2 separate regions of the Homo sapiens genome follow, and region 1 is linked to region 2. The links come from fine-mapping of genetic effects on gene expression. Tissue or cell type: whole blood. Region 2 holds a variant in brackets; the other region holds the start of a gene. All regions are shown on one strand. Distances are from middle to middle. Region 1 holds the start of RINT1 (RAD50 interactor 1). Region 2 holds the start of EFCAB10 (EF-hand calcium binding domain 10).

Region 1 (9,255 bases), 49 kb after region 2:
AAGTTAATAATTTTGCCAGGCACGGTGGCTCACACCTGTGATCCCAGCACTTTGGGAGGCTGAGGCAGGTGCATCACCTGAGGCCAGGAGTTTAAGACTAGCCTGGCAAACACGGCGAAATCCCGTCTCTACTAAAAATACAAAAATTAGCCAGGCGTGGGGGCACAGGCCTGTAGTCCCAGCTATTCGGGAGGCTGAGGCACGAGAATCCCTTGAACCCAAGAGGCAGAGGTTGCAGTGAGCCAAGATCACACCACTGCACTCCAGCCTGGGCGACACAGACAGACTCTGTATCAAAAAACAAAACCAAAACAAAGCGCCACTGCACTCCAGCCTGGGCGACAGAGACTCTGTATCAAAAAACAAAACCAAAACAAAACAAAGTTAATAATTTAAAGAACAACACACACAGACAAATGCCCAGAAGAATAGCTCTAAAGCACTCTATCAAACAACTACTGCAAAATGCTTAAGAGCTGAGGGAAGTATTAAAGGAAAAATTCCTAAAGTGTGATCCAGTAACCACAGGTTTCAATAGACAAGGAATAATACCTTTTCAAAATGTGTAAGGAACCAGTAGTATGGTCTAGGGCAACACCAAAAGAAGACTCTTGTTTTAAAGTGTTTTTAAAAAGACCGGGCGCAGGGGCTCACACCTGTAATCCCAGCACTGTGGGAGGCCAAGGCAGGAGGATCACTTGAGCCCAGAAGTTCTAGACCAGCCTAGGCAACAAAGCAAGACTTCATCTAACAAAATTAGCCAGGAATGGTGGAACACACCTGTAGTCTCAGGTGGGCTGAGGTGGGAGGATTGCTTGAGCAGCCTGGGAGATGGAGGCTGCAGTGAGCCATGATCTCACTACTACATTCCAGCCTGGACAGCAGAGCAAGACCTCATCTCTTAAAAACAAACAAACAAACAAACAAAAAAGTAAAAAAGGTTTGGCTGGGCGAGGTGGCTCAGGCCTGTAATCTCAGCACTTTGGGAGGTTGAGGCAGGCAGATCACAAGGTCAGGAGTTCGAGACCAGCCTGGCCAATATGGTGAAAACCTGTCTCTACTAAAAATACAAAAATTAGCTGGGCATGGCGGTGCACGCTTATAGTCCCAGCTACTCGGGAGGCTGAGGCAGAAGAATCGCTTGAACCCGGGAGGCGGAGGTTGCAGTGAGCCGAGATCACGCCACTGCACTCCAGCCTGGGCAACAGAGTGAGACTCTGCCTCAAAAAAAAAAAAAAAAAAGGTTTTTAAGCTTCAAATGTCATCGATGTCATTGTACAAAGATATCTTTGTCAGAAACAGAAAAAAGAAAATATGAGAGAACAAATTACTAGGAAAAAATCAAAATGACAAATGCAACCACTAAATAGTATAAAGTGAGATTCTTTCCATGGCAAATAAACTACCTGTTTTGTGACATTTAATAAGTCCAATACACATTAGGCTTATTAATATTAATATCTAAATAATGATATGCCTAAGTGCAAAATGTAAATGTCAGATATTGGTCAACTATTTATGTAAAGATTAACAGAATATATACCAATGTTTTATACAGAGTATGTTCCTGTCTCCACCCCTACACCCCAACAAACAAAATTTCCTTTGTTCTACTTAACTTATATGAATTAAATTAAAAGATTTTTCACATGCTGTGAGAATCAGGAGGTGGTACTGACCTTTTCCCCCTTTCCTGTTCAGTGCAAGATCCAGAACCCAAGCTATACATTGTGCCTTCCCAGAGCAATTTTAAATTGACAATTTAGAGGGTAGGAGAGGCAATATTAACATAACACTATGCCTCAATTTTCCAACTAGAAAACAAATTGTAACATTTGCCCCAGCCTATATCTCAAGGTTATAAATGGGACTATATAATACAAATTATATATTAATTATACTATATAATTATATATAATATTAACGTATAATAATCTACTATTATGTACAGAACTCACAATGCCTTTTTTAAATCTTAAATAAAACAAGTGATTTGTGTGGTGTATCTGCAGATAAATGGAGGCAGGAAATGTTTTGTGAATGCTAAAGTTGCTGTATCTTAGGGAGGAAATTCTACCTTCATTTTTTAAAAAAAATTACACCCACTGAGCACAGTGGCTCATGCCTATAATCCCAGCACTTTGGAAGGCCGAGGACGGTGGATTGCCTGAGGTCAGGAGTTCAAGACCAGCCTAACCAAAATGGTGAAACCCTGCCTCTACTAAAAATACAAAAATTAGCCGGGTGTTTGGCGGGCACCAGTAATCCCAGCTACTGAGGAGGCCGAGGCAGGGGAATTACTTGAACTCAGAGGCGGAGCTTGCAGTAAGGCGAGATCGCGCCACTGCACTCCAGCCTGAGAGACAGAGTGAGACTAAGTCTCAAAAAAAAAAAAAATTACACCCTTGATGTGTAACCATTCAAATGTGGCATAGTACATTCTTAGTGAAATGACATTCTTCAAAATGACACACCGGTGGTTTGGGAGGTTTTTATGTGTCTCCTTTTCTATTTTTTGTAAAGAGCACTCCTAACTGCAAAGCAGTTTGAGCTGTGGAAAGAGGAACAAGGTCAAAGTCCTTGATATGATAGTCTACATCTATTATTTTATTAAAATGACAGCTCAGTAGGCATCAGACTACTTTCCAGGCATCTGAATGAGGCAAAGGTGGAAAATGGAAAGGGAAGGGTTTAACTGAGAGATACAAGGCACTCTGAAATCCTTCAAGAAAAAGGAGCTGAGATGTGGCAGTTATGACAGTCATGTGCTATGGACTGCTCAGAGCCTTCTTTCTGAGGCAGATTCTATCAGCCGCTAATGTTAAGGGCAAATCTTACTCCTAAGGGCCATGTGCTAATGTGGGCACCGTTTTTCTTACTGCTACACATTCCCAACTGTTTGCCACAGTCAAAAGAACCAAAAATCCCAATAGCAGAGCTATCACATGCTTTTCCCCTTCCTCTCCCAAAAAATGTCACTTCAAAGGTCCCTAAAGAGCCCTTGATTTGCAATAACCTGCCATCAAAGTAAAATGGCAAAAGTCCACAACCCTGACATATACTCCCGTACTAGGGAGGAAATGGTGGTACTGACCTTTTCCCCCTTTCCTGTCCAGTCCAAGATCCAGAACCCAAGTTATCCGTTGTGCTCTTGCCAGAGCAATTTTAAATTGCCAATTTACTGAAGGTGAACTAAACAACTGTCATTTGCCTCCTTTGAACCCAATTAGGGTGGTGGTCGTCTGTCCTAGATCATGGGCCCCTCCAAATTCCTGATGCTTAGTAAGTTGATGTTTCATTAAAATGACAGGCAGGCCCCAATTATTCTGAGTACTGTATGATAGGCAGACTTCCAGCGAAAACACTCTAGTCCCTGTACTAGGTATGGATCGGGAAGTGCTCTTCTCCAAAGCATCCCATATTTTACAATTTTAGAAAGACAAAAATATGTGTATCATGGTCATCAGTATTACCATATAAGCATATTGTGCAGAAAACGGTACTGCATCTAAAAGATAGGCAAAGAACCTTTCTATATTGCAGACCCTGGAAGGCTGAGTTTGGGCGGGAAGAAAAAGCTAAGGTGTTTGGAGCTGGCTTACTTTTCTCCTCGAGGTTCTTCCTTTCGTCACCACTTTCAGAGCAGCACTAGAAGAAGAACAGATGTGACAAGCACATTAAGATTAAAGTCGTGGATGGAAAGCATACGGGGCTCCCAAAGGGCACCCACTGGAGGCAAGAGAGGTTCCAGACGCTCTCCCACTTTCTGAGCGACCAGGGCCGTCCGAATCAGGTACCTCAAAGTGCCACTGTCCTGGTGCCACCGCCACCTTCCCAGGAGGTGTGTGTCACCTCCGCAGGACCTGGAGTTACCTTGCCTGCTCACTAGAGCCACCTCCCTAGAGAAATCTGTCATCTCACCAGGGCCGCCAAAGCCACTTCACGGGGACTACCGCCTCCTCTAGGAGGTCTTACAAGGGCCTCTAATCTAAGCCGCAGGAAGCACCTTCACAAGCTTACAGGGCCACCGCACCGGGACTATCTCCCCCGGGAGGTCTGTGCCACCTCAATGGGCCACCAATGTCCCCTCCCAGGGACGCCAGGGCCGTCTCACCGGGGCTGCAGGAGAGGCGCCGATCTCGCCGGCTGGTAGCATCTCGCCTCCGCGCGAGTCCTCGGCTCCATTCGCAGCCAGCGTGGCCTGTGGAGTCTGGCTAAGGCCAGCGACACACTCACTACCCAGCCTCGGAGGCCGTAGGACTGAGTGCCACAGCGACTTCCTCTCGATGTCTCACTGGTTTCTTCCTCTCAGCCCAGAGAGGCCCTGCCCGTGCAGCCGCCGGCCGTGCTCTGTTCCTCCCCCTCCTGACCGGAGGTCGGAACGGCCACTCAGGAAGCGGGCACCCTCCCCTATGGAGCTCCAGAGAAGGGATTCGCTCACTCCACCGCGGTAAAAGTCCCCTCCACTTTATTGAAGCTCTTAATGATGGAACTTTAAGATATCCCTCTCCCAACGCCTTAAATTCAATATGAATAATTTAAATTTATATTTTAGGCAATATCCAGATGTTCTGAGAGTGTGGGGGGCTTGTTGACTAGGAGCTTCGGTGCAGGGTTATTTGGTTCGAATATTTAGTTGGGGGTTTCCAATGAATGTCAGTATCTTTAGATATTTCTTTTAACGTTGGTCAGAGTCCCTAGAGATGAGCTTCTGATTTCCTGCCTAGAGGGTGTAGAGGTGGTTATAAGCGTTCTGGGAGCTGAATGAAGAGAACAGAGCATCTAACATGTGTTTCGCCCAAAACCCTGTCTTTTACCAGGGAGGAGGAAAGGGAGCTACCTAGCAGCAAGGGTTGTGTAGAGGACCTGTGGACTTGACAGCCTCTTAAACAAACTAACACGGAAGGAGTACCATAGAGACCATAACAAACAAGGGGGGGGGAAAGCAACCCTCAGAGGAAAAAGAAACCACACGGTGAGAAGAAAAATCAAATACATGTGCACAGAGATATATAATCGAGCTACAAATTACTATTGCAAGCATAAAACAAGGATGGCTGGGCGCTGTGGCTCACGCCTGTAATCCCAGCACTTTGGGAGGCCGAGGCAGGCAGATTACGAGGTCAGGAGATCGAGACCATCCTGGCTAACATGGTGAAACCCCGTCTCTACTAAAAATACAAAAAATTAGCCAGGCGTGGTGGTGGGCGCCTGTAGTCCCAGCTACTCAGGAGGCTGAGGCAGGAGAATGGCGTGAACCCGGGAGGTGGAGCGTGCAGTGAGCAGAGACCGCACCACTGCACTCTAGCCTGGACGACAGAGCAAGACTCCGTCTCATTTAAAAAAAAAAAAAAAAACAAGGATACTATTTTTTAAATTACCTATTATGGGAACATAATCGTATATATTTATAGTGTACATGTGTGTTTGTTTTTTTTTTGCTCAGGCTGGGGTGCAATGGCGTTATCTCTGCTCGCAGCAACCTCCGCCTCCCAGGTTCAAGCGATTCGCCTGCCTCAGCCTCCCAAGTAGCTGGGATTACAGGCATGCACCACCACGCCCGTCTAATTTTGTATTTTTAGTAGAGACGATGTTTCTCCATGTTAGTCAGGCTGGTCTCGAACTCCCGGCCTCGGGTGAACTGCCCGCCTTGGCGTACCAAAGTGCTGGGATTACAGGTGTGAGCCACTGCGCCCGGCCTTTTTTTCTGGGGCGGGGCGGGGGACGGGTAAAGAAATTTTAATGAGGATTCAAGGTTTGTAGGGAAGACACAGAGGACCGGCGCTCAGCCCCAGCCTCCTCACGTGTACATGGCTCCATGGAGGTTCTCCAGTCGGTTCTGCTGCTGCTGCTGTTTTCGAGCCTTATCTCGTCTGTGTTCCTCATAAGTGTAGTCATCAGTGGGCAGCTCATGGCGGCACAAGGGACAGGAATTTGTCTTGCTTAGCCAGGGCAGAATGCAACTGGAATGAAAAAGGTGTTGGGAAGCATCTCAATGGCAGTCTCCTCCTCAGATTCCAAAAGATACACGGGGCACTTGAGCTCAGCCTTGAGAGCCTCTGATGACTGTCCTGGAGAGGTTCTCAACCACAATCTTGGCAGCCGGTGGAGGCAGGTGGTGGTCCCAATCTACTACCAACCCCAAGTCTTCAAAGTCCATCCTATTCAAAAGTGACCTTACGAGCTCCAGCACCATGTTGGTTCGAGTCTCCTGCTTGAGGGTCCAACGGCTCACAGTCGTGTTCATCGATATAGGACGCCATGGCTGCCCAGCCGTCTGACATGTGATGTTTTGATACAGGTATACAATGTGTAACTATCAAATCCGAGTAACTGGGGTATTGATCATCTTGAGAATTTATCATTTCTTTGTGTTAGGAACAGTCCAATTCCACTCTTTTAGTTATTTTAAAATATGCAATAAATTATTAACTGTAGTCACTCTGTTTTATTGTTGTTGTTGTCGTCATTTGTTTTGGTTTTGGTTTTTTTGTTTGTTTTTTGAGACAAGTTCTCCCTCTGTTGCCCAGGCAGGAGTGCAGTGGTGCAGCCATAACCCACTGTAACCTCAAACTCCTGGGCTCAAGGGATCCACCCACCTCAGCCTCCTGAGTAGCTAGGACTATAGACTGGCACCACCATTCCTGGCTAACTTTTTTTTGTTGAGACAGTGACTCGCTATGTTGCCCAGGCTGGGCTCTACTCCTGAGCTCAAGCGATTCTCCTGTCTTGACCTCCCAAAGTGCTAGGATTACAGCCATGAGCCACTGCACCTGGCCCCTAACTGTATTTTTGGACCCATTAACCATCCCCAATTTATGCCTTCCTCCCTGCTACCCTTTCAGCCTTTGGTAACAATCATTCTACTCTCTATCTCCTTGAATTCAATTTGTTTAATGTTAAGCTCCCACATATGAGAGAAAAGGATACTATTTAAAAGGAGCATTGGCTGGGCACGGTGGCTCCTGCCTGTAATCTCAGCACTTTGGGAGGCTGAGGCAGAACAAATTGCCTGAGGTCAGGAGTTCAAGACCAGCCTGGCCAACATGGTGAAAGCCTGTCTCTACTAAAAGTACAAAAATTAGCCAGGCCTGGTGGTGGGAGCCTGTAATCCCAGCTACCCAGGAGGCTGAGGCAGGAGAATCTCTTGAACCCAGCAGGCAGAGGTTGCAGCGAGCCGAGATTACACCACTGCACTCCAGCTGGGCAACAAAGCAAAACTCTGTCTCAAACATAAATAATTAAATAGATAAATAAATGAATAATAAAAGGAGCACTCACTTGTAAATGGGGAGGGTAAAAATAAATAAAATAAGAAAAGCATTCAGAGATGAAAAAATATGACAGCAGAAATTAAAATTTCAAGAGTGGAAAGATAGGCCAAGTGCAGTGGCTCACGCCTGTAATCCCAACACTTTGGGAGGCCAAGGCACGTGGATCGCTTGAGGCCAGGAGTTCGAGACCAGCCTGGCCAACATGGTGAAACCTGGTCTCTACTAAAAATACAAAATATTAGCTGGCCATTGTGGCACGTGCACCTATAGTCCCTGCTGCTTAGTAGGCTGAGGAACAAGAATTGCTTGAACCCAGGAGGCTTTTAATTTCTGCTGTCATATTTTTTGTTCTCTGAATGCTCTTTTTATTTTATTTATTTATTTTTATCCTCCCCATTTTCACAAGTGAGTGCCCCTTTTATTATTTATTATTTGTTTGTTTGTTTCTTTGAGACAGAGTTTCGTTCTGTTGCCCAGGCTGGAGTGCAGTGGCACGATCTTGGCTCACTGCAACCTCCGCCTCTGGGGTTCAAGTGATTCTTCTGCCTCAGCCTCCCTAGTAGCCAGGATTACAGGTGCCCGCCATCATGCCCGCCTAATTTTTGTATTTTTAGTAGAGATGGGGTTTCATCACATTGGCCAGGCTGGTCTTGAACTCCTGACCTCAGGTGATCTGCCCACCTCAGCCTCCCAAAGTGCTGGGATTATAGGCATGAGCCACTGTGCCTGGCCTTTTCTTTGTTTTGTTTTGTTTTTTGCTTTTTTTTCCTAGAACATTTATCAACATTTATCTTCCCACACTTTGTTTGTTTGTTTTTATTTTGAGACGGGGTCTCACTCTGTCACCCAGGCCGGAGTTTATTGGCAAGATCTTAGCTCACTGCAACCTCTGCCTCCCAGGTTCAAGTGATTCTCCTGTCTCAGCCTCCCAAGTAGCTGGGACTACAGGTGTGCACCACCACACCTGGCTAATTTTTGTATTTTTAGTAGAGATGGGGTTTCACCATGTTGGCCAGTCTAGTCTCAAACTCCTGACCTCAAGTGATCTGCCCGCCTCAGCCTCCCAAATTGCTGGATTACAGTTGTGAGCCACCACGCCTGGCCAAAAACTGGAATTCTGTACTTAATTAGTGAACTATGAATCAAATGTGAGGTTAGAATAAAAATGTGGGGTTTTTTTTAACACTCTTGTAGTCAAGAATAAAAATAGACATTAAAGATCTCAAAAAATTTAGCTTTTGTTTTATTTATTTATTTATTTATTTATTTATTTATTTATTTATTTGAGACAGAGTCTCACTCTGTCACCCAGACTGGAGTGCAATGGCACGATCTTGGCTCACTGCAACCTCTGCCTCCCAGGTTCAAGCAATTCTCCCGCCTCAGCCTCCCGAGTAGTTGGGATTACAGGCGCCCACCACCATGCCAAGCTAGTTTTTGTATTTTTAGTAGAGACAGGGTTTTGCCATGCTCAGGCTGGTCTCGAACTCCTGACCTCAGGTGATTCGCCTGCCTTGGCCTCCCAAAGTGGAATCACGGGTGTGAGCCACCGCGCCCAGCAAGCTTTCATTTATTTCTCCTTTCTCGGGAAGCTACTGAAGGTTGTACTCCACTAAAATAAGAGAGTAAACCAAGAATAAAGATGACATAGGATATAGGAAACAGAAAGATTCAATACAGGAACAGAGATGCCCTGAGAACAACTGTGCAATAGGCGTAGATTGGCGTAGGCCAGGAGGTTCCAGAAGAGACTGCTTCAGAAAGATGAAAATAGAACACCTCATCTAAACCTCTGGAAAGGGGAGATTTACACAATCATTGAGGGGTTTGGGCTTGGTCTAGTGATGAATAGTAAACTAAAATAAGATAATTATTAACTAGAGGAAAAACAAAAGCAGTACAGAAGAGAAGTAATCATAGTTTCTTATTTGCCTAAAATGTGAATGATATTTACCTAGTCATAATGAAGTAAACATAAATC
Region 2 (9,255 bases):
AGTTTTGTTTACTGGATTGTCAAAGAGGCTTAGAATATTTTCACATGTTCACTGACCACTTGTCATTCCCCTTCTTGAAGTGGGGCTTCTGCGCTAACTCTTGGGTGAAGCATGTGGGCACAGGCCCTCAAGGACAGATGGCCCAGCCCAGAGTTTTAGTTTCTCAGGTCTTCCCATGACTGAGTAGAGGCCCTCCTAGCTACTTGCATCCCACCTTACTCAGTGACCCTCCGTCAAAACAACTGTCAGGGCCAGGCACGGTGGCTCACGCCTGTAATCCCAGCACTTTGGGAGGCCGAGGTGGGAGGATCACCTGAGGACAGGTATCAGGGGAACCCGCCCCCAATAATTCAATGTTATTTCATGTAGGTTCTTTTCTATTTCCCTAAGTGTCAGACAGTCCGAGAAATAAAGAGTACAGGAGAGAGAAATTTTAAAGCTGGGTATCCGGGGGAGACATCACATGTCGGCAGGTTCCGTGATACCCCCCAAGCCGCAAAACCAGCAAGTTTTTATTAGTGATTTTCAAAGGGGAGGGAGTGTACGAATACGGTGTGGGTCACAGAGATCACATGCTTTACAAGGAAATAAAATATTACAAGGCAAATGGAAGCAGGGCGAGATCATAGGACCCAGGCGAAATTAAAATTGCTAATGAAGTTTCAGTCACGCATTGTCATTGATAACATCTTATCAGGAGATAGGGTTTGAGAGCAGACAAGCCGTCTGACTAAAAATTTACTAGGTGGGAATTTCCTCATCCTAATAGGCCTCGGAGTGCTACAGGAGACTGGGGCTTATTTCATCCCTTATCTGCAACTGTAAAAGACATTCCATTTTAGAAAGACAGGCCATTTTAGAGACCAACCCCTGGAAAGGCATTCTCTTTCTCAGGTCTGTTCCTTACTGAGAAAAGGAATTCAGTGATATTTCTATTTGCTTTTGAAAGAAGAGAAATATGGCTCTGTTCTGCCTGGCTCTCAGGCAGCCAGACCTAATGGTTATCTCCCTTGTTCCCTGAACATTGCTGTTATCCTGTTCTTTTTTCAGGGTGCCCAGATTTCATATTGTTTAAACACACATGCTTACGAACAATTTGTGCAGTTAACACAATCGTCGCAGGATCCTGAGGCGACATACATCCTCAGTTTACAAAGACAATGGGATTAAGAGATTAAAGTAAACACAGGCATAGGAAATCACAAGAGTATTGACTGGGGAAGTGATAAATGTCCATGAAATCTTCACAATTTATATTCTGCCATGGCTTCAGCCGGTCCCTCCGTTTGGGGTGCCTGACTTCCTGCAACAGACAGGAGTTCCAGACCAGCCTGGCCAAGATGGTGAAACCCCATCTCTACTAAAAAATACAAAAAAAATTAGGGTGTAGTGGTGCCTGCCTGTAATCCCAGCTACTTGGGAGGCTGAGGCAGGAGAATCTCTTGAACCTGGGAGGTGGAGGTTGCAGTGAGCCAAGGTCACGCCATTGTACTCCAGCCTGGGCGACAAGAGCGAAAATCCGTCTCTAAATAAATAAATAAATATGTCAGGTGGTCTCCATCTCATAAAACCAGCTCCAGCAAACAGGGGTTGAAGCTCAGGATCCAGGCTGCTCTGTGGCCCACAACCCAGTCGAGCCAACAGGCCAAGACCTTCCTGACTGGTGGCCAGCGCCATGCCTGCAGGCCGCTCACACCAGAGATGCCACTTAGAACTCTCCACTGGGGAGTTCGATCGGTAGCGGGAGCGGAGAGCGGACCCCGGAGAGCGGACCCCAGAGAACCCTGAGCAGCCCCGCCGCTGCCGGCCTAGTTACCGTCATACCACGGGAGGAGCCGCAGCTGCCGCAGCCGGCCCCAGTCTCCATCACCGCAACCAATGAGCAGCAAGGCCGAGACCCAGCAGCCACCCGCCGCCCCCGCCTTTCCCCCCACCGCCCCCCTCCCGTCCCCCCGCCGCCCCCGCCCTCAGCGCCGCCGACACCAAGCCCGGCACTACGGGCAGCTGCGCAGGGAGCGGTGGTCCGGGCGGCCTCACATCGGCGGCGCCTGCCAGCGTGGACAAGAAGGTCATCGCAGTGAAGGTTTTGGGAACAGTAAAATGGTTCAATGTAAGGAACGGATATGGTTTCATCAACAGGAATGACACCAAGGAAGATGTATTTGTACACCAGACTGCCATAAAGAATAACCCCAGGAAGTACCTTCGCAGTGTAGGAGATGAAGAGACTGTGGAGTTTGATGTTGTTGAAGGAGAAGAGGGTGCGGAGGCAGCAAATGTTACAGATCCTGGTGGTGTTCGAGTTCAAGGCGGTAAATATGCAGCAGATCGTAACCATTATAGACGCTATCCACGTCATAGGGGTCCTCCACGCAATTACCAGCAAAATTACCAGAACAGTGAGAGTGGGGAAAAGACCGAGGGATCGGAGAATGCTCCCGAAGGCCAGGCCCAACAATGCCGGCCCTACCGCAGGCAAAGGTTCCCACCTTACTACATGCGGAGACCCTATGGGTGTCGACCACAGTATTCCAGCCCTCCTGTGCAGGGAGAAGTGATGGAGGGTGCTGACAACCAGGGTGCAGGAGAACAAGGTAGACCAGTGAGGCAGAATATGTATCGGGGATATAGACCACGATTCCGCAGGGGCCCTCCTTGCCAAAGACAGCCTAGAGAGTACGGCAATGAAGAAGATAAAATCAAGGAGATGAGACCCAGGGTCAGCAGCCACCTCAACGTCGGTACCGCAGCAACTTCAATTACCAACGCAGATGCCCAGAAAACCCTAAATCACAAGATGGCAAAGAGACAAAATCAGCCAATCCACCAGCTGAGAATTCGTCTGCTCCCGAGGCTGAGCAGGGCGGGGCTGAGTAAATGCCGGCTTACCATCTCTACCATCATCCGGTTTAGTCATCCAACAAGAAGAAATATGAAATTCCAGCAATAAGAAATGAACAAAAGATTGGAGCTGAAGACCTTAAGTGCTTGCTTTTTGCCCGTTGACCAGATAAATAGAACTATCTGCATTATCTATGCAGCATGGGGTTTTTATTATTTTTACCTAAATATGTCTCTTTTTGGTAATAACAAACGTGTTTTTTTTAAAAAGCCTTGTTTTTCTCAATACGCCTTTAAAGGTTTTTAAATTGTTTCATATCTGGTCAAGATGAGATTTTTAAGCACTTTATTTTTAATTTGTAATAAAAGTTTACAACTTGATTTTTTCAAAAAAGTCAACAAACTGCAAGCACCTGTTAATAAAGGTCTTAAATAATAATAATAAAAAGAACTCTCCACTGGGCACCCTCAAAATTGCACAAGTTCCTTCTGTTATTAGTTCATGCTGAGTTGTGATGCCAGCACTTCAAGCCTTGTTAATCATTGGATCAACAAGTACCGAGCTAGGTGCTAGAGAGAGATGGAAAAAGGCACCTGGGCCCAGCCCTAAGCCTGGATCGCGGACAGTGACGTTGGTCCACACCTCACCTGCCCTCTCTGCCCTGCTACATGCCCCAGGCTTGCCCTGAACCGTGAGCTCTAGAAATTCCAGGTCCGGGTCGCAGCCACAGGGCAGTCAGGCGTGTCACGTGACCGCGCCGGGTAGAGGGAGACAGAGTCGCACGGCTGAGACGCCAGGCAGTCGCCTAGCAACAGCGGGACGCGGAGCGATGGAGACCAGCAGCAGGGAGCTCCAAGCCGCGGAGTATTTGGAAAAGCATCAGATCAAGGAGGTGGTTAGCTACCTCACCAGCGCCCTCCTTTTCTTTCGGCCGGGTAAGGGCCCCCATGCCCCGGTACAGCCATACCTCCATGTGGGGTTCGCTTCCCACACGAAACCCCCCTCTTACACATTCGCTTTCCACTGCCTCCCAGCCACGTGAGCCCTTCTGCTGTTGATTAACTCTGCGGCCTTCAATAAAAGTCCCTCAGGCTGCAGTACAATGGCGTGATCTCATTTCACTACAACCTCCACCTCCTGGTGGCGATTCTCAGGGGCGATTCTCCTGCCTCAGCCTCCTGAGTGGCTGAGATTACAGGCGCCCGCCACCATGCATGGCTAATTTTTGTATTTTTAGTAGCGACAGGGTTTCGTCATGTTGGTCAGGCTGGTCTCGAACTCCTGACCTCAGGTGATCTGCACGCCTCGGCGCCTCAAAGTGCTGGGATTGTAGGCGTGAGCCACCGCGCACGGCCAAAGTTTTTAATCTGGCAACTAAACAATTGATAGGGTAGGATAGAAGATGTTCTAGAGGGGATCGCTTTTCCTGACTTTTTTTACACATCTGAACCCCCTACAAAATTTGAATCGTTTTGTAATTTGGGAGTGGTGTGTCATTTAAAAGTTATATTTAGGTGAAAATGGTTTTATGTCCTCCCCAGGGTGCAGAATTGTAATTTGCCGACCTCCATATGGAGCGTCCGAAATGCCAAAATTGTCCATTTGCTTCTGTGTAAGGAAGTGGAAATACCAAACATTCCAATTTTGCCAAAAAACACCCAACCAATATCATGTATAGGAGACAGAGTTCTTGCTAGTTGTTTTAAAGTATTAAAACAAATATTAGAAAGAAAAAAAAAGGCCGGGCACGAGATGGCGCCACTGCAGCCTGGGCGACAAAGCGAGATCCTATCTCAAAAATAAAAATAAAAATAAAAAATAGGCCAGGAGCAGTGGCTCAGGCCTGTAATCCCAGTACTTTGGGAGGCCGAAGCGGGTGGATCACTTGAGTTCAGGAGTTTGAGACCAGCCTGGCCAACATGGTGAAACCTCGTGTCTGCTACAAATACAAAAAATTAGCCGGGTGTGGTAGCGCATGCCTGTAATCCCAGCTATTCGTGAAGCTCCTTGGGGGCGGTGACTCACGCCTATAATACCAACGCTCTGGGAGGCTGTGGTGGGCAGATCACTTGACTTCAGGAGTTCATAGACCAGCCTGGGCAACATGGCAAAACCCCATCTCTATTAAAAATAAAAAAACTTAGCTGCACGTGGTGGTGCGTGCCTATAATCCCAGCTACTCAAGAGGCTGATGTGGGAGGATCACGTGAACCTGGGAGGCGGAGGTTGCATTGAGCGGAGATTGCTACTCAAGCCAGGTGACAGAGTAAAACACCTTCTCAAAAAAAAAACTAAAA[ATAAAG/G]ACAAATGTTAATTTTCTTCATCATAACAAGGGATATATTATGTTACATTCGTTATATAAAATATTTGTCAACATTTATTTTTAAATTTCATTTTTATTGAAGTGGATGTATGGGGTTTAAAAATTGAAAAGTACTCCAAAGCTTATAATAACAGCATTCCTGTTGCTATCCCCAGCTTCTGCACAGAATAATTTCAACTCTTTTAGCAATATTCTTTGCTATTTATCTTGAGATTTCTAAATAACAGGCCTATATTGCTGCTGCTTAATGTTTTTCCCTCTAGGTTAGATACTAGCTTTATGCTGTGGAAGATGAAAATGCGCCTTTCTTAAACACACACCTCATACACCTGTTCCCACTCACACCCATCTTCCAGATAAATTTAGATCACAATTTTGATATCCTCAGTATTCAGAATTTTTAATATTGTTAGGCAAGTATCTATAATCCTTATAGTATGCTGATTATATTTCCCTTGTTGTTTTCCCTGGTTAATAATATATTTACATTTTTGGCTTAAATTTGTGTGATCATCACTAATTCATCCATACCCTCTTTTGCCACAGTACAGCTGTCCTCTCATTACATTTGCATTCATTGGGTAATTACCCCCACCACCACCACCCAAACCCCGTACCCCCAGCTGTGTGTCTTCCTGCTCCAGTCTGGACTGATAGCTACACAGTGGTTATTCACGGCTTCCCCTCACTCTGATCCTAAGACGACTCCTCGCCTTTCTAGTGTTCAGAGCCTGTTTTATGGCACAGCCAGTAATCCCTCATTCTTGCTTTACCGCTTTCTTCTGGTGGAGCATATCCTTTAGTGGCTTCCTGAGAGAGCGTGCTTTGAGGGGTAAAGATTTTGGGAACACACGTATATAAAAATGTGAGTTCCTACATTCAAAACTTTTTAATAGAGTGGAGGCTGTGCACGGAGGCTCACACCTCCCAACACTTTGAGAGGCCAAGGCGGGTGGATCACTTGAGGTCAAGAGCTAGAGACCAGCCTGGCCAACATGGTGAAACCCCATCTCTACTAAAAATACAAAAATTAGCCAGGCATGGTGGCATGTGCCTCTAGTCCCAGCTACTAGGGAGACTCTGGCAGGAGAATCACTTGAACCTGGGAAGTAGAGGTTACAGTGAGCTGAGATTTCACTGTTGCACTCCAGCCTGAGCAACAGAGTGAGACTCTGTCTCATAAAATAAAATAAGAGTGGACACAATTTTAACTTGGAACATATTGCCCTCAGAATTTTTAAGGCATTGCCCCATTGTCTTCTAATTTCTCATGTTGCTCTGAAGAATTCTGATGTCATATGTCATCAGATACTTGATCTGGCTATGAGGCAAGTTTATTCTTTCCAGAAACTTTTTAGGATTGTCTTTTTATCTTATCCCTGGTGTCCTAAATATATGCCTTGGAATGGTTTTGTTGTGGTTGCTGTTAATGTTTGTGCTCTAGGTACTTTATGGTCTTATTAAATTTGGAGATATTTTTCTTTCAGGTCTAGGAAGTATTTTTCTTATTTTCCTTACCTATATCTTTCTGGAATTATTATTGGATATTGGACATCTTGGCTTGATTTTCTAATTTACTTTACATCTTGATATGTTGTATAATTTTTATCAGAAGAATGCAATTTATGAATCTGCAGATTCTCTTGAGAATTTACCAAATTGTTATTTTGATGCTCCTCACTGACTTATACTTACATTTCCTGTCTTCATTAGTCGTTCTTTATGGGTAAGATGACTGTATGAGTTATCATCCAAACCGGGGATATTTTGAGTGAAAATAGGTACTATTAATAATTATGCCAGGACAACATGGTAAACTAGGACTGTCCCAGGCCAACTGGAACCTTTGATTATCCTGAATACGGGTATCTTAAACATGATATGAACAACAAAATTTAAAAAGACAGGCTTGGGATGGTGGCTCACGCCTATAATCCCAGCACTTTGGGAGGCCAAGGTGGGTAGATCACTTGAGGTCAGGAGTTCGAGACCAGCCTGGCCAACGTGGTGAAAAACTATCTCTACTAAAAATACAAAATTATCCAGATATGGTGGCACAGTGAAATGCTGTCTCTACTAAAAATACAAAATCAGGTGTAGTGGCACATGCTTGTAATCAGTTATTCGGGAGGCTGAGACAGGAGAATCGCTTGAACGCGGAGGCAGAGGTTGCAGTGAGCTGAGATTGCACCACTGCACTTCCAGCCTGGGTGACAGAACAAGACTCTGCCTCAAGGAAAAAAAAAAAAAAAAATTGAACAGACAAAAGCACCATGGCAGCCAATGGGTCAACTGAATGAAAACTTAATTTTTCTGAGTCACAACATGAGCCCACTTACCTGATCTGAGTGAACTTCAGGATAGTCTCTGAGCATCTCAAACAGTTATAATACACACAGAGGCCTCCATTTGGCCATCTCGGTTGCAACACAGAATCACACTCAAAGCAGCACAGTCATTCCAGCAATCAAGAGTAATTTGAAAGGAATCAAAAAGACTTCAATTCATAATCCACAGTAAAACCACTCAAAAGTCCTTCCTCCTTGTTCCCAGCTGTATTCTCCACAGCAGCTGCAGATCCTATCAGGTTCCAAATTCATGACACTCAGCCCATCCAACTCTTCTGTCTCCTCCCTATCTTGCATGTTTTTCTCAGCTCTTTATTATGTCAAACAATTTAGCATCTTGAAGATTCTTTTTTTCCTCCAGCACAAAAAGCCTTGCACCCATCTGGCAAAACCAGAATTTTCCAGTAGAAGGCATTATGGGGGGAAAAGAACCTAAGCAGATAAAGACAAAATTCTCTTTGGTGGAAGGGAAGTCTGGGAATACTCATACATTAATTATATACCTATCACATAAATAGTGTAGCTGTTTTTTTAAAACTGAGACATGGGTACCACTTTTTTTTTTTTTTAAGACGGAGTTTTGCCCTGTCGCCCAGCCTGGGGTACAGTGGCACATCTTGGCTCACTGCAACCTCCGCCTCTGGGGTTCAAGTGATTCTCATGCCTCAGTCTCCAGAGTAGCTGGGATTACAGGTGCAAACCACCATGCCCAGCTAATTTTTGTATTTTTAGTAGAGACGGGGTTTTGCCATGTTGTCCAGACTGGTCTCGAACTCCTGACCTCAAGTGATCCTCTCACCTTGACCTCCCAAAGTGCTTGGATTACAGGTGTAAGTCACTGCACCTGGCTGGGTACCATCTTCAATAATGAGAATTCCGGCTAGGCGCGGTGGCTCACACCTGTAATCCCAGCACTTTGGGAGGCCAAGGCAGGCGGATCACGAGGTCAGGATATCGAGGCCATCCTGGCTAACACAGTGAAACTCCATCTCTACTAAAAATACAAAAAAAATGAGCCAAGCATGGTGGGAGGCACCTGTAGTCCCAGCTATTCAGGAGGCTGAGGCAGAAGAATGGTGTGAGCCTGGGAGGCGGAGCTTGCAGTGAGCTGAGATTGTGCCACTGCACTCCAGCCTGGGCAACAGAGTGAGAATCTGTCTTAATAATAATAATAATGATGATGAGAATTCCTTAAAATATCTTTATAAACACCAAAGCTGGGGAGAGGAAACCATAGGTACAGAAACACTGAGCCAGAATAAGAAGGTAATGAAGCTAAAGAAGGGGTGGGCTGGCATGCAGAGTATGTATGCAGTGCTGTTGAAGTTTTCTGCCTAAGTCCTCCTAATGGCAGAGGAGAAAGGACTTGTCCATTCAGTGTCTGGGACCTTAGCCTGATGTGGCATAAGAAGTTTCTTTGAAGTCGTTTTGTCCTAAAAATACATGAGATCTGTTCTTTCGTAGCTATACCTATTTCTTAATATAAATGTTTTATATTACTCACCAAGGTATGATTGATGCTTAGAAAGACACACTAGCTTTATCCTGTGTCTTTGTGAAGCCCCTGGTATTTCTTTTTTTGTTGAGACGGAGTTTCGCTCTTGTTGCCCAGGCTGGAGTGCAATGGCGCGATCTCAGCTCACTGCAACCTCTGCCTCCCAGGTTCAAGTGATTCTCCTGCCTCAGCCTCCCTAGTAGCTGGGATTACAGGCATGTGCCACCATGCCTGGCTAATTTTGTAT

What was found.
Region 1: it holds the start of RINT1, and the variant in region 2 is fine-mapped to the expression of RINT1 in whole blood (TOPMed, PIP 0.94).

Annotation. Positions count from the first base shown.
Region 1 is chr7:105,527,217-105,536,471 of GRCh38, reverse strand. RINT1 (RAD50 interactor 1) reads right to left here and starts at 4,271. Exons shown (of 15, transcript NM_021930.6): 1 at 4,115-4,271; 2 at 3,603-3,648. The coding sequence starts at 4,156. It also overlaps the pseudogene LOC100131785. RefSeq lists enhancers at 3,499-4,075, 3,921-4,100, 4,191-4,490, 4,076-4,653, 4,941-4,990.
Region 2 is chr7:105,575,880-105,585,134 of GRCh38, reverse strand. EFCAB10 (EF-hand calcium binding domain 10) reads left to right here and starts at 3,642. Exons shown (of 5, transcript NM_001355526.2): 1 at 3,642-3,777. The coding sequence starts at 3,672. It also overlaps the pseudogene YBX1P2. RefSeq lists enhancers at 3,227-3,737, 3,738-4,250. The variant ATAAAG/G (reference allele first, on the strand shown) is at 5,140.